Linked DNA regions of Homo sapiens: regions 2 and 3 are each reported to be linked to region 1. The links are microRNA targets in miRTarBase. Many come from high-throughput screens and were not tested one by one. Region 1 holds a microRNA gene; each other region holds the end of a gene's coding sequence.

Evidence for each region. Region 1 holds the annotated microRNA hsa-miR-195-3p (CCAAUAUUGGCUGUGCUGCUCC, at 2,890-2,911, opposite strand). A microRNA usually pairs through its seed, bases 2 to 8, with sites in the 3' UTR of a target mRNA and lowers its output. Matches are read on the target gene's strand: a 7mer-m8 pairs with bases 2 to 8, a 7mer-A1 pairs with bases 2 to 7 and ends in A, and an 8mer does both.
Region 2: miRTarBase lists NRIP1 as a target of hsa-miR-195-3p. Seed matches in the 3' UTR shown: 7mer-m8 at 1,600-1,606, 7mer-A1 at 2,218-2,224 and 7mer-A1 at 3,113-3,119.
Region 3: miRTarBase lists GRPEL2 as a target of hsa-miR-195-3p. Seed matches in the 3' UTR shown: 7mer-A1 at 2,378-2,384.

What each region holds. Positions count from the first base shown.
Region 1 is chr17:7,014,739-7,019,048 of GRCh38, forward strand. It overlaps MIR195 (microRNA 195), which reads right to left and starts at 2,963; the gene lies at 2,877-2,963. It overlaps BACC1 (BPTF associated chromatin complex component 1), which reads left to right and starts at 44. Exons shown (of 6, transcript NM_174893.4): 1 at 44-140; 2 at 324-418; 3 at 1,036-1,137; 4 at 1,757-1,947; 5 at 2,172-2,276; 6 at 2,523-2,782. The coding sequence starts at 120. The coding sequence ends at 2,527. It overlaps RNASEK-C17orf49 (RNASEK-C17orf49 readthrough), which reads left to right. Exons shown (of 8, transcript NR_037717.1): 3 at 1-140; 4 at 324-418; 5 at 1,036-1,137; 6 at 1,757-1,947; 7 at 2,172-2,276; 8 at 2,523-2,786. MIR497HG (mir-497-195 cluster host gene) reads right to left here. Exons shown (of 3, transcript NR_038310.1): 2 at 2,331-2,650; 3 at 1,080-1,276. It also overlaps MIR497. RefSeq lists enhancers at 1-6, 357-857, 1,270-2,469, 3,821-3,990 and a silencer at 1-426.
Region 2 is chr21:14,960,957-14,965,111 of GRCh38, reverse strand. NRIP1 (nuclear receptor interacting protein 1) reads left to right here. Exons shown (of 4, transcript NM_003489.4): 4 at 1-3,877. The coding sequence ends at 396. Among named protein-coding and RNA genes, the nearest start is that of ASMER1, 44 kb to the right of the region's middle.
Region 3 is chr5:149,350,716-149,354,870 of GRCh38, reverse strand. It overlaps GRPEL2 (GrpE like 2, mitochondrial), which reads right to left. Exons shown (of 4, transcript NM_152407.4): 4 at 288-3,953. The coding sequence ends at 3,589. The region is part of intron 1 of GRPEL2-AS1 (GRPEL2 antisense RNA 1); the gene reads left to right. Among named protein-coding and RNA genes, the nearest start is that of GRPEL2-AS1, 4.8 kb to the left of the region's middle.

The DNA of each region.
Region 1 (4,310 bases):
TGCGGGGAGGGCGGGACTTCCTGCGCGGGGGCCCGAGCCGCTCAGTCTCCCTGCTCTCCGTGGTCCCGGCTCGCGTGTAGCGGCGGCGGCGGCGTCTCCGTGAGGAGGCGCGCGGGGCCATGACGTCAGCGTCCACAAAGGTTCGACCTCCCTCGCGGACAGCGCTCCCTGGCGGCCACGGGAGGGCGGGCCCCCCACTTGGCTCGCGGCTCTTCCGCCCCGGGCGGGGGGCGGGCGGGAGCCGAGCCTGGGGTGGGGCTAGGGGCTCCGGGCGGGACGGGGAGGGCGGGCGCCGGCCCCCCGTGACGCTGCCCCGCCCCCAGGTCGGAGAGATCTTCTCGGCGGCCGGCGCCGCCTTCACGAAGCTCGGGGAGCTGACGATGCAGCTGCATCCCGTGGCCGACTCTTCTCCTGCGGGGTACGTGAGCCCGGACTGGGACGTGGACGCTGAGAGCGGGCGCTTGGACTCGGTCACAGACACGGACCCTCTCTAGCACAGGGACAGACATTAGTTTCCCTTTGTGCGTGGCACAGCACAGAGTCGGTGTTAATAAATGATCGTTGGGTGAGGGAATGAATGACAGATAAAAATACAGACAGGCCCATAGCCCAGACTCCTGTTTCACAGTTCTCCCTGCTGCGAACGGGTCGACCACAAACCACCGCCACTCCCAACCACCCCAGTTCATGGAATTCCCCCAGACGGCTGCAGGCTGTGTTGGTGGGTCTGTTTTGAAAAGCCCTTCCTGGCGAGTTGGTTTCAGTGTGCTGTGTACAGCAGCCGTTTAACGTTGATGGTGGAAAGGGGTGTCTAAGGTGGAGGTGGTTGTGATTTCTTGTGATTGGGGTCCTCCCGGTTCCCGCAGGGCCTCAAGAGCTTTCCGCCTCCCCTTACGGAGGACCTCTTTATGCATCCGTGGAAGGGGTCCCAGAAATCGGAAGGAGGCGGCTGGTTGGCTGTGGGATGCATAGCCTGTGGGCGGGCTCCACACCCCCCCTCCCATTTTTGCTATCCCCCCTCTCCCCTTCTGACAGTGCGAAGTGGACGGAGACGGAAATAGAGATGCTGAGGGCTGCTGTGAAGCGATTTGGGGACGATCTTAATCACATCAGCTGTGTCATCAAGGAACGGACAGTGTGAGGGAGGGTGGCTGCCAGAAAAGGGCGGGTGGGCAGCCTTCTTCCTCCTTACCCAAGGTTCCATCGTCCTCAGAACTCCTTTCCAGCTCAGCTGCTTCCCTACTTTGTCACTAGTTTTTTAGAATCCCCTTGAGGACTGAAAGAATAGAATTGTCACAGTTGGTCAGAAGTTCCTAAAATGCTGTGGTAATCCTTCCAAGAATGTGAATTTAGGTTGCCTGAGATGCTGTTATTGTATTTGATGATGGAAGTCCCCTGGTTATTTATATAAATGTTTGAGGACCCCACTGCAGTGTTTCCAGGGATATGGTGACCCTGAACTAGTTGATCAGTAAATCTCAATCCACCTGTAAATCACCAAGCTCTACCTGATGTCTCTCCCAGAAGAGAATTAGGAGATGGGCCTTTCCCACTACTCAGTTCAGGGACTCCACTCTCCACACTCCATCCATCCTGAGTGAGTGTAAAACTTCGAGAAAGTGAGAACCCTACCAATGGGTTGGGGCCCCGACCTGGATTCTTATGAAGGGACTCCCAGAACCCCTTCCCCTCCCGTCCCCTCTTCTGTTAGTCTCTCTGATGACTCCTTTCCTAACCTCTTCTCTCTTTTCTTCAGGGCCCAGATAAAGGCCACTGTGAAACGCAAGGTATATGAAGATTCTGGCATCCCCCTTCCAGCTGAGTCACCCAAGAAAGGGCCCAAGAAGGTGGCATCTGGTGTCTTGTCACCTCCTCCAGCTGCCCCTCCTCCCAGCAGCTCCAGTGTCCCTGAGGCCGGGGGTCCCCCCATAAAGAAACAGAAGGCTGGTGAGGGCTGTGGAGTTGCTGCCTAGGGGTTAAAGGTCCCATCTGAGGTTTAGTGAGAGAATTGGGCCTGGGTCAAAGAAGGGTCAGTCTCTCTTCCTGTCCCTGTGGAGGTTCCCAGAGAGGGGCAGAGGGGAGGGGAGAGGAGGCACAAAGCTTTGGGAAGCTTGGGGCTGGGGGAGAGGCTGTCAGGGGAACCTAGAACCTAGCTTATGCCCCCTTCCCAGATGTGACACTCAGTGCTCTGAACGACTCCGATGCCAACAGTGACGTGGTGGATATTGAAGGGCTAGGAGAAACTCCTCCAGCTAAGAAACTCAACTTCGACCAGGGTAGGAGTCCTCCTCCTCCCACACAGCTGACGGGGTTGGGGAGAAAGGGCTCACCTGGATGGCAGGGCACGGTCTCCGCAGGGGCCCCTCCCTTGTATAGGGGTTTCAGAAGAGAAGGTGCTCTCATACACAGCGCAGGGCATTGGATCAGTACGTAGCAGGGTGTTTCAGGGAGGTGGGAGTGGCCTTGGAAGCACACTGGGGGCTCGCTCCATCTCGGCCCATTTTACTTCCTGTTCCAGACAGCCTGACCCTGGATTCTGGCCTTCTCATGACCTCTGCTGATCCTCCTCTCCTCTCCTGCTGAGCCTTCCACCTCTGACCTCTCACTGTTCATGCCGGACCTGTGGATCTCCTGGGACTCCGAGCAAGGCCTGCACGAGAGAGGGCTGAAAGGCTGCTGGGGCTGCCACCTCGCTATTCCCGCATAAGCATCTGCCCCCAACCCCTTTGACCTTCATCTGATGGACATTTTTATACAGAAAACAATAAAGATTTCCCTCTCAGCTTCGTGCTGTCTGCTTAACATTATTAGCAGGAGAGGCCTGTTCCCTCTTCTCTCCTCGGCCCATGGGGGCTCAGCCCCTCCTCGGTAGTTTTCACCACCCTGCCTGGAGCAGCACAGCCAATATTGGCAGACTCGCTTCCCTGTGCCAATATTTCTGTGCTGCTAGAGCCAGGGAAGCTGGGTGTGGGCAACAAAGACTCCACTTTGTTCTCTTGAGGCAGAACTTACTCCCAGGGTCTCTGGCCATCAGTATTCTTGAAACTGCCCTGGAGATTTTAGAGGGGTGCTTACATACCCCACCCTCTCCTTGCCCACCTGGCAAGAAGTTTGTCACAAGGCCCCAGATGTTTTTTGTGTCACTTCTCCAGGATGGCCTCCCAGGGCCAAGCCTCGGCGGTGCCTCCCCCACCCTCGCTCTAACACCACAGTGTGGTTTGGACGTGGCCACAGTGCCGTACAAACCACAGTGTGCTGCTGGGGCGGGAGCAGGACCGGGGTGGGTTGAAAGGAAGAGAGCACATAGCAGTGCTGGGAAGACCCCAGCACCACCTCCAGGAGCGGGGGGATAGAGAAGCCTTAAAAGGCAAACATGGCCCCCAAAAACGTTTGGGAGGAACCAGGGACGGGCTGAGCAGGCAACTGGAAGGCGACGGACCATGGGGATGAGCTCACAGTGTAGTAAGATTGGACCATCTTCCCTCTGTAGGAACTCAGCTCAGGGGATCCCTAGGGTGGGGTCAGAGGCAGAAGAAATAGGGAATGACTGGAGGGGCCAACACACTGCCTCCTGTCTCAGCAAGGGCAGGGACCCAAGGCTTCCTGTGTCCGTCCTTCCTCTCCCTGGGTCAGAACCCAAGAGAAAAGCAAGGAGAGACAGAGGGCCAAGGCCAGCAGGGTTGGGAGTTGGCAGTCCAGAGGTGGTGGGGCCGGAACATGGTTGGGAGAGGGGGGCCGGAAGTCGCCCTGGGCCCTGGGCCTGCCACAAGATGGAGGCCAAAGGCAGGAAATGGAGACCAGGGGGAAGGGGAGCAGCAGAGCCCAGGAAGAGGGCCATCTGGACCTGGGGGGCCAGGTATTCAACCCCCAGTGCTGTTCCCACTCCCCAGGGCCCCTGAGGACCCGAGCCGGCCCCCACAGCAACCTCCATCAGCCCATCCACCAGGCCAGGGCAGGCGGGCCCACCCCAGAGAGCCACGTTTAAGCTGAGACAAACATGCCTCTCCCCACCCCCAACTCCAGGCCTTCCCTCAGCCCTTTTCTCCTGTCCAGGACTTGATTTTTTAAAAACACCCCTCAGAAAGCAAAATCCAAGGGCCAAAACTCCTTTTGCAAATCAAAATATGACCCCCTAAAATCCAGAAGTTATCTTCCTATATCCCATCGCATCTTTTACCACCCCCTCTTCCGACACACCCCCCAAAACTCTTAGCAATCTGAAAGATCCAAGGTGGTGTATGTAAGCAGTCTTTTTAGGCCCCCGAAGATGCCAGACCCCTCCCGGACACCCCTATCTGCCCTCCATCAAA
Region 2 (4,155 bases), not on the chromosome of region 1:
GGGCTTTTGAATGGGTGTTCCATGCCCAGTGAGAAAGGACCCATTAAGTGGGTTATCACTGATGCGGAGAAGAATGAGTATGAAAAAGACTCTCCAAGATTGACCAAAACCAACCCAATACTATATTACATGCTTCAAAAAGGAGGCAATTCTGTTACCAGTCGAGAAACACAAGACAAGGACATTTGGAGGGAGGCTTCATCTGCTGAAAGTGTCTCACAGGTCACAGCCAAAGAAGAGTTACTTCCTACTGCAGAAACGAAAGCTTCTTTCTTTAATTTAAGAAGCCCTTACAATAGCCATATGGGAAATAATGCTTCTCGCCCACACAGCGCAAATGGAGAAGTTTATGGACTTCTGGGAAGCGTGCTAACGATAAAGAAAGAATCAGAATAAAATGTACCTGCCATCCAGTTTTGGATCTTTTTAAAACTAATGAGTATGAACTTGAGATCTGTATAAATAAGAGCATGATTTGAAAAAAAGCATGGTATAATTGAAACTTTTTTCATTTTGAAAAGTATTGGTTACTGGTGATGTTGAAATATGCATACTAATTTTTGCTTAACATTAGATGTCATGAGGAAACTACTGAACTAGCAATTGGTTGTTTAACACTTCTGTATGCATCAGATAACAACTGTGAGTAGCCTATGAATGAAATTCTTTTATAAATATTAGGCATAAATTAAAATGTAAAACTCCATTCATAGTGGATTAATGCATTTTGCTGCCTTTATTAGGGTACTTTATTTTGCTTTTCAGAAGTCAGCCTACATAACACATTTTTAAAGTCTAAACTGTTAAACAACTCTTTAAAGGATAATTATCCAATAAAAAAAAACCTAGTGCTGATTCACAGCTTATTATCCAATTCAAAAATAAATTAGAAAAATATATGCTTACATTTTTCACTTTTGCTAAAAAGAAAAAAAAAAGGTGTTTATTTTTAACTCTTGGAAGAGGTTTTGTGGTTCCCAATGTGTCTGTCCCACCCTGATCCTTTTCAATATATATTTCTTTAAACCTTGTGCTACTTAGTAAAAATTGATTACAATTGAGGGAAGTTTGATAGATCCTTTAAAAAAAAGGCAGATTTCCATTTTTTGTATTTTAACTACTTTACTAAATTAATACTCCTCCTTTTACAGAATTAGAAAAGTTAACATTTATCTTTAGGTGGTTTCCTGAAAAGTTGAATATTTAAGAAATTGTTTTTAACAGAAGCAAAATGGCTTTTCTTTGGACAGTTTTCACCATCTCTTGTAAAAGTTAATTCTCACCATTCCTGTGGTACCTGCGAGTGTTATGACCAGGATTCCTTAAACCTGAACTCAGACCACTTGCATTAGAACCATCTGGAGCACTTGTTTTAAAATGCAGATTCATAGGCAGCATCTCAGATCTACAGAACAAGAATCTCTGCTAAGTGGACCTGGAATCTTCCATCTGCATCTTAACATGCTCTCTAGGTGTTTCTTGTGTTTGAGAACCATGACTTATGACTTTCCTCAGAACATGAGACTGTAAAACAAAAACAAAAAACTATGTGATGCCTCTATTTTCCCCAATACAGTCACACATCAGCTCAAAATTTGCAATATTGTAGTTCATATATTACCGTTATGTCTTTGGAAATCGGGTTCAGAACACTTTTTATGACAAAAATTGGGTGGAGGGGATAACTTTCATATCTGGCTCAACATCTCAGGAAAATCTGTGATTATTTGTGTGTTCTAATGAGTAACATCTACTTAGTTAGCCTTAGGGATGGAAAAACAGGGCCACTTACCAAACTCAGGTGATTCCAGGATGGTTTGGAAACTTCTCCTGAATGCATCCTTAACCTTTATTAAAACCATTGTCCTAAGAACAATGCCAACAAAGCTTACAACATTTAGTTTAAACCCAAGAAGGGCACTAAACTCAGATTGACTAAATAAAAAGTACAAAGGGCACATATACGTGACAGAATTGTACACAATCACTCCATTGGATCTTTTACTTTAAAGTAGTGATGAAAAGTACATGTTGATACTGTCTTAGAAGAAATTAATATATTAGTGAAGCCACATGGGGTTTCAGTTGCGAAACAGGTCTGTTTTTATGTTCAGTTTGTACAATCCACAATTCATTCACCAGATATTTTGTTCTTAATTGTGAACCAGGTTAGCAAATGACCTATCAAAAATTATTCTATAATCACTACTAGTTAGGATATTGATTTAAAATTGTTCTACTTGAAGTGGTTTCTAAGATTTTTATATTAAAAATAGGTGTGATTTCCTAATATGATCTAAAACCCTAAATGGTTATTTTTCCTCAGAATGATTTGTAAATAGCTACTGGAAATATTATACAGTAATAGGAGTGGGTATTATGCAACATCATGGAGAAGTGAAGGCATAGGCTTATTCTGACATAAAATTCCACTGGCCAGTTGAATATATTCTATTCCATGTCCATACTATGACAATCTTATTGTCAACACTATATAAATAAGCTTTTAAACAAGTCATTTTTCTTGATCGTTGTGGAAGGTTTGGAGCCTTAGAGGTATGTCAGAAAAAATATGTTGGTATTCTCCCTTGGGTAGGGGGAAATGACCTTTTTACAAGAGAGTGAAATTTAGGTCAGGGAAAAGACCAAGGGCCAGCATTGCTACTTTTGTGTGTGTGTGTGTGGGTTTTGTTTTGTTTTTTTGGTTGGCTGGTTGTTTTCGTTGTTGTTAACAAAGGAATGAGAATATGTAATACTTAAATAAACATGACCACGAAGAATGCTGTTCTGATTTACTAGAGAATGTTCCCAATTTGAATTTAGGGTGATTTTAAAGAACAGTGAGAAAGGGCATACATCCACAGATTCACTTTGTTTATGCATATGTAGATACAAGGATGCACATATACACATTTTCAAGGACTATTTTAGATATCTAGACAATTTCTTCTAATAAAGTCATTTGTGAAAGGGTACTACAGCTTATTGACATCAGTAAGGTAGCATTCATTACCTGTTTATTCTCTGCTGCATCTTACAGAAGAGTAAACTGGTGAGAGTATATATTTTATATATATATATATATATATATATATAATATGTATATATATATATATTGACTTGTTACATGAAGATGTTAAAATCGGTTTTTAAAGGTGATGTAAATAGTGATTTCCTTAATGAAAAATACATATTTTGTATTGTTCTAATGCAACAGAAAAGCCTTTTAATCTCTTTGGTTCCTGTATATTCCATGTATAAGTGTAAATATAATCAGACAGGTTTAAAAGTTGTGCATGTATGTATACAGTTGCAAGTCTGGACAAATGTATAGAATAAACCTTTTATTTAAGTTGTGATTACCTGCTGCATGAAAAGTGCATGGGGGACCCTGTGCATCTGTGCATTTGGCAAAATGTCTTAACAAATCAGATCAGATGTTCATCCTAACATGACAGTATTCCATTTCTGGACATGACGTCTGTGGTTTAAGCTTTGTGAAAGAATGTGCTTTGATTCGAAGGGTCTTAAAGAATTTTTTTAATCGTCAACCACTTTTAAACATAAAGAATTCACACAACTACTTTCATGAATTTTTTAATCCCATTGCAAACATTATTCCAAGAGTATCCCAGTATTAGCAATACTGGAATATAGGCACATTACCATTCATAGTAAGAATTCTGGTGTTTACACAACCAAATTTGATGCGATCTGCTCAGTAATATAATTTGCCATTTTTATTAGAAATTTAATTTCTTCATGTGATGTCATGAAACTGTACATACTGCAGTGTGAATTTTTTTGTTTTGTTTTTTAATCTTTTAGTGTTTACTTCCTGCAGTGAATTTGAATAAATGAGAAAAAATGCATTGTCTCTGGTTTGAAATGACTGTTATTTTGTGGGCTTTCTCTGGTTTTTAGGTTTTCCATAAACGTAAAACACATTGCTATGAATATAACAGTGATCTTCAAGGATGTTTTGCCCTTCTTAGAAAAATAAAGGGGACAAAAAAGAAGGTGGCTGGCAAGTTAGTGCACTAGAAACAGGGTAATTAAGGCATAACTCAAAGTGACAATCAGCCTATGGCCTTTCTCCCATGATTCAGTGTGTAACTAGTTGATCACTGTAAATTTTTAAACTAGAAAATAGTT
Region 3 (4,155 bases), not on the chromosome of region 1:
AAACTCCATCTCAAAAAAAAAAAAAAAAAAAAAAGGCAGAAATAGGAATCCAGATCTAAGAAATATGTAGCAATCAGAAAGAGGCAAGTCAAGGAGGAATAAAACAGACAAGACTTCAACACGGAGGCAGGGTGGGGAAAGCCCACAGTGCATCCACTTGGCTATGCTGCTATGAGATCTCAAGGTACCTCTCCAGAGCATCAACAAGGCAGGTCAGCAGTCATGAAGTGACCATAATGTTCCATATACAATACGAATAGGCAGACAAAGACTCTAAACACCAGAGCTGCAGTTATTTCAATTCAGGTTTTATTAAAGTTGTTTCTGAATATTTTTTCTCAGTGATCCTTGTTCTGATGAATATTACATTTCATCCTTAGTTTTGCTCATTTGATTTTGCTTTAGTGTTTAAAGAACTTTTATTTATCAAATCCTTTGCCATGAATGAGAGCACCAAATAACATATCAATACCCAACTGCCTGATTCCTTTACAGCAGTAAGAAAAGTCAGTAAAACATTTGTACAGTCCAAGTACTACAACACCAAGATCCCCTCTTCAAGTGAGAGTGAGCCAAAGCTTCCTTAGTATCATCTCAAGTCAATGTCTTTTCACTATACCATTAAGATGAAAATAACTAAGAGCACTGACACAATTTTCTTGCTCTTTCCATCTAAAAATGTGGGTTTCCTGTGGTGTGGCTAATTTTAAAAACCAGAAAATGGAAGGAAAATAAGTCAGTGAATGATTAGCTTACAAGTTTTTTCTACTCATCATTAACCAGTCTTCCCTTTTCCCTAGACTTTAGACAGCCATAAAAAGGCAGGAAAAACAATGTGCATAATAAAAAAATAAAAATAAATATCTGAGCACCTACTGTAGTAGGCATTTAACACATTTCACTTAATCCTCACAACGCTGTGAAAGAATTATTATAATCATTTTACGAATAAAGAAACAGGCTCAGAAGGGTGAAATCACTGGTGCCTAAAGTCCTGCAGGTGACTGAGCTGAGATTTAAGTTCAAGCCTATGCTCTAATATGCTGCTTTGGCTCCCCAAAGCCCTTCAGCTTGAGATTCTTACTACTATAGCTTCATCTTCTAATTCTAAATTTACACTTTTAAGTCTGCAAAACTACTGAATAACAAAAGAACCTAAAATTATTCTGAATTTACTTGCCAAAACGGGAGGTGTAATAGACCATTAGAAAATTCTTCTAGCCTGGACAATATAGTGAGACCCCGCCTGTAAAAAACAACCAACCAACCAAAAAAAAAAAACCAAAAACCAAAAACCAAAAACCAAAAAACAAAACTAGCCAGTCATGGTGGTGCACTTGCCTGTGGTCCTGGCTACTTGGTAGGCTGAGGTGGGAGGATCACTTGAGCTCATTAGGTAGAGACATCTCTTTAGGTAATCATAACATTCCATACCTAAAATTATTGTTAATTGTAATTAATGTTAATTCTAACTGGTAATGATAGCTAGCAATAAAAAAACACACAGAGAGTAATTACAATCAGCTCATTTTCTTATTGTCACCATCTGTCAAATCTCACAGAATGGAAGGCAAAAAAAGACAACTTCCTATTGTGAACCTTGATTGTTCATTAAATTTACAATATATACTTAGTGGAATGCCAAAAGATGTTCTGGTTTTACAAGCTTAACCACCAGTCTTTTGATTGCATTTTAAAAGTGCATATTTACTTGTTTTTTAAGGGTCTAAATCTGATGAAGATGGTAAGGCCCACAAGGAGATGGCTTTATTGATAAGTTTGTGTGCTGTCTTAGAATTATCTATAATGTATAAGAGGTTAACTTTCCACCACTCCACTGAATGTCATAGAGTTCCAGTGGAAAATGAATTTTATTTTATTTTATAACTTCAACCTAAACCTATATAATCTAGACATCCAACAACATCTGATTGTCTGCTGGAGACTTCATTGCATGCCCATTAATCTTAAATGGAGACTTAATTGCATGCCCATTAATCTTAAATGATTGACATTAATATCTAGTTGTTCTTCATTCATACTCTCACTGGAATTTAGTCAATAGTTTAGAGATTATTTTCCTTGTGTCCAGTCCTAAAAAGACTAGATTTTCATACTTCAGAAGCAGAAAGGGTGAGATTTGATCATTAAGGCCTCTTCCAACATTAAAATATCCATAATTGACTGCCTTCCTAAAATCTGACTGATGTATCATTCATTAAGTCGTTTATTGGACAAATCTTTTACAGAACACCAGCTATAAGACTGAAAAAAAACCACATAGGCCCATTAATTCTAGAGGTTAATATATAAAAGGTGAGCTCAATGTTTACACAGATGTGACTTAACAGATACAAAGAATAGGAAATAGAGCTTGTCAATATAACAGAGGTAGTGATTTGTGAGTACCAACTTAAAAAAAAAAACAACAAAAAAACTTTGCGGGCGCAGTGGTGAACGCCTGTAGTCCTAGCTACTTGGCAGGCTGAGGCAGGATTGCTTGGGCCCAGGAGTTGGAGGTCAGCCTGGGCAACACAGGAAAAAAAAAAAAAATTGCCAAGAGGAGAGAATACTTATGTTAAGTGTTCTTATCGCAAAAAGTAACATAAATAGAGCCAGAGGAAACTTAAAAAAAAATTCAGCATTAACTATTAATAAATGAAATGAGAAATCATGGGAACCTAACACTTTTGTCCTGATCACCACCTCCCATCATTTAATAAAGGATTATAAGGTAAAATTGACAAAAGGGCAGAGGAGTAAAGGCTGGTGGAATAAGTTGTAGGTAAATTACCCAAATAGAGCCATCTGGGTCATTAGCTGTTAGTGTTGCCTCAGTTTGCCTGAAATGATTATATGACAAGGAGGCTGAAAATAATTTGAAGAGCAAAGACAGCACAAGGCTTTTTGGCCATTCTTGCTTGAAAGGGTCCTGGGTATCTCAAATTTCGATGCTCCTTGCCTTCCAAGTCTCATCTAGACCTTTAGCCCCTGCAAATGGGGATGAGAAAGGGGTGGGTATGGGACAATGATGTGAGCATAAAGCCTATCTAGTTGGGATTACAAGAACAAAAGATGGCTAAAAGGAAAAAAACAAAACAAAAGGTAAAGTCCTGAAAATCTATGTGTATAAAAATCAATCCAAATGATCTAAATTTATACGACCACGAAGCTTTATCCTCTAAGTACCCAAATGTTGAACCAATCCCTACCATCTCCTTTTTCCACAAAATACAAGATACTACACAATTCCTGTTATAGAGACCGCTAGGAAGAAACATGTAGTTGAAAACCCATAGTTAAAAGGATTTTGGATTCAAATTTATCACAGTACCAATTTTCCTAAACATGTTTTGATAAAGGCCATTGGAACACCTGTCACACTGTTCAAATGCCCAATGGTAAGACTTCTGATGAGACCAAACAGGTCACATTAAATCAATAGAATATCTTAGAAATAAAGCCAATATGACTAAATCCAAAACATATCACATGAAGTACCTCATGTACAATACAAACCTAGTTTAATAAATAAAAGAAACATAGGTGACTGCGCTCTGGGAGAACATCCAGTTCCTGATGGCCTCTTCACAGTCTTCTCTGAGACTCCACTGCCACTTCCACTCGGGCAAGCCTAATGGTGCGGCCATGAAGTTTGTAGCCATCTTGTCTTACTAATGCCACGGTGCCAGGCTGCACCCCAACACCAGCTGGCACATGACAGATGAGTTCATGCTCATGGGGGTCATATTTGTCACCAATGGGTGTCAGTTTCTCCAGGCCATGCTTGGCAAACACACTTTTCAGCTTTGCTTCTAAAAGCAACAACCCTCGGAAGACCTTCTCCAGAGTGAGCTTTTGGTCCTCAGGCTCCGATTCTTCAGAAATGCACTCTGTAGTCTTCTCCAAAATGTCAGCCACCTCCACCAAGTCCTTACAGAAACTCTGGATTCCTGCAGAGAAGCCAGTTATTTTTATTGTTTGTGAGGAAATCACTCTGCCCGTGGGCATAGAGTTTGGGTAAGGCCTAGATAGACGGCTAGTATGCTGAGTAGTCCAGCAAGTGGAAAGGTTGCCACACAGGACTCAGAGATCATCACTGATTACCACCCCAACCCAACTGACAAGTCAGTGTCTCTCTCAGAAGGCATATAT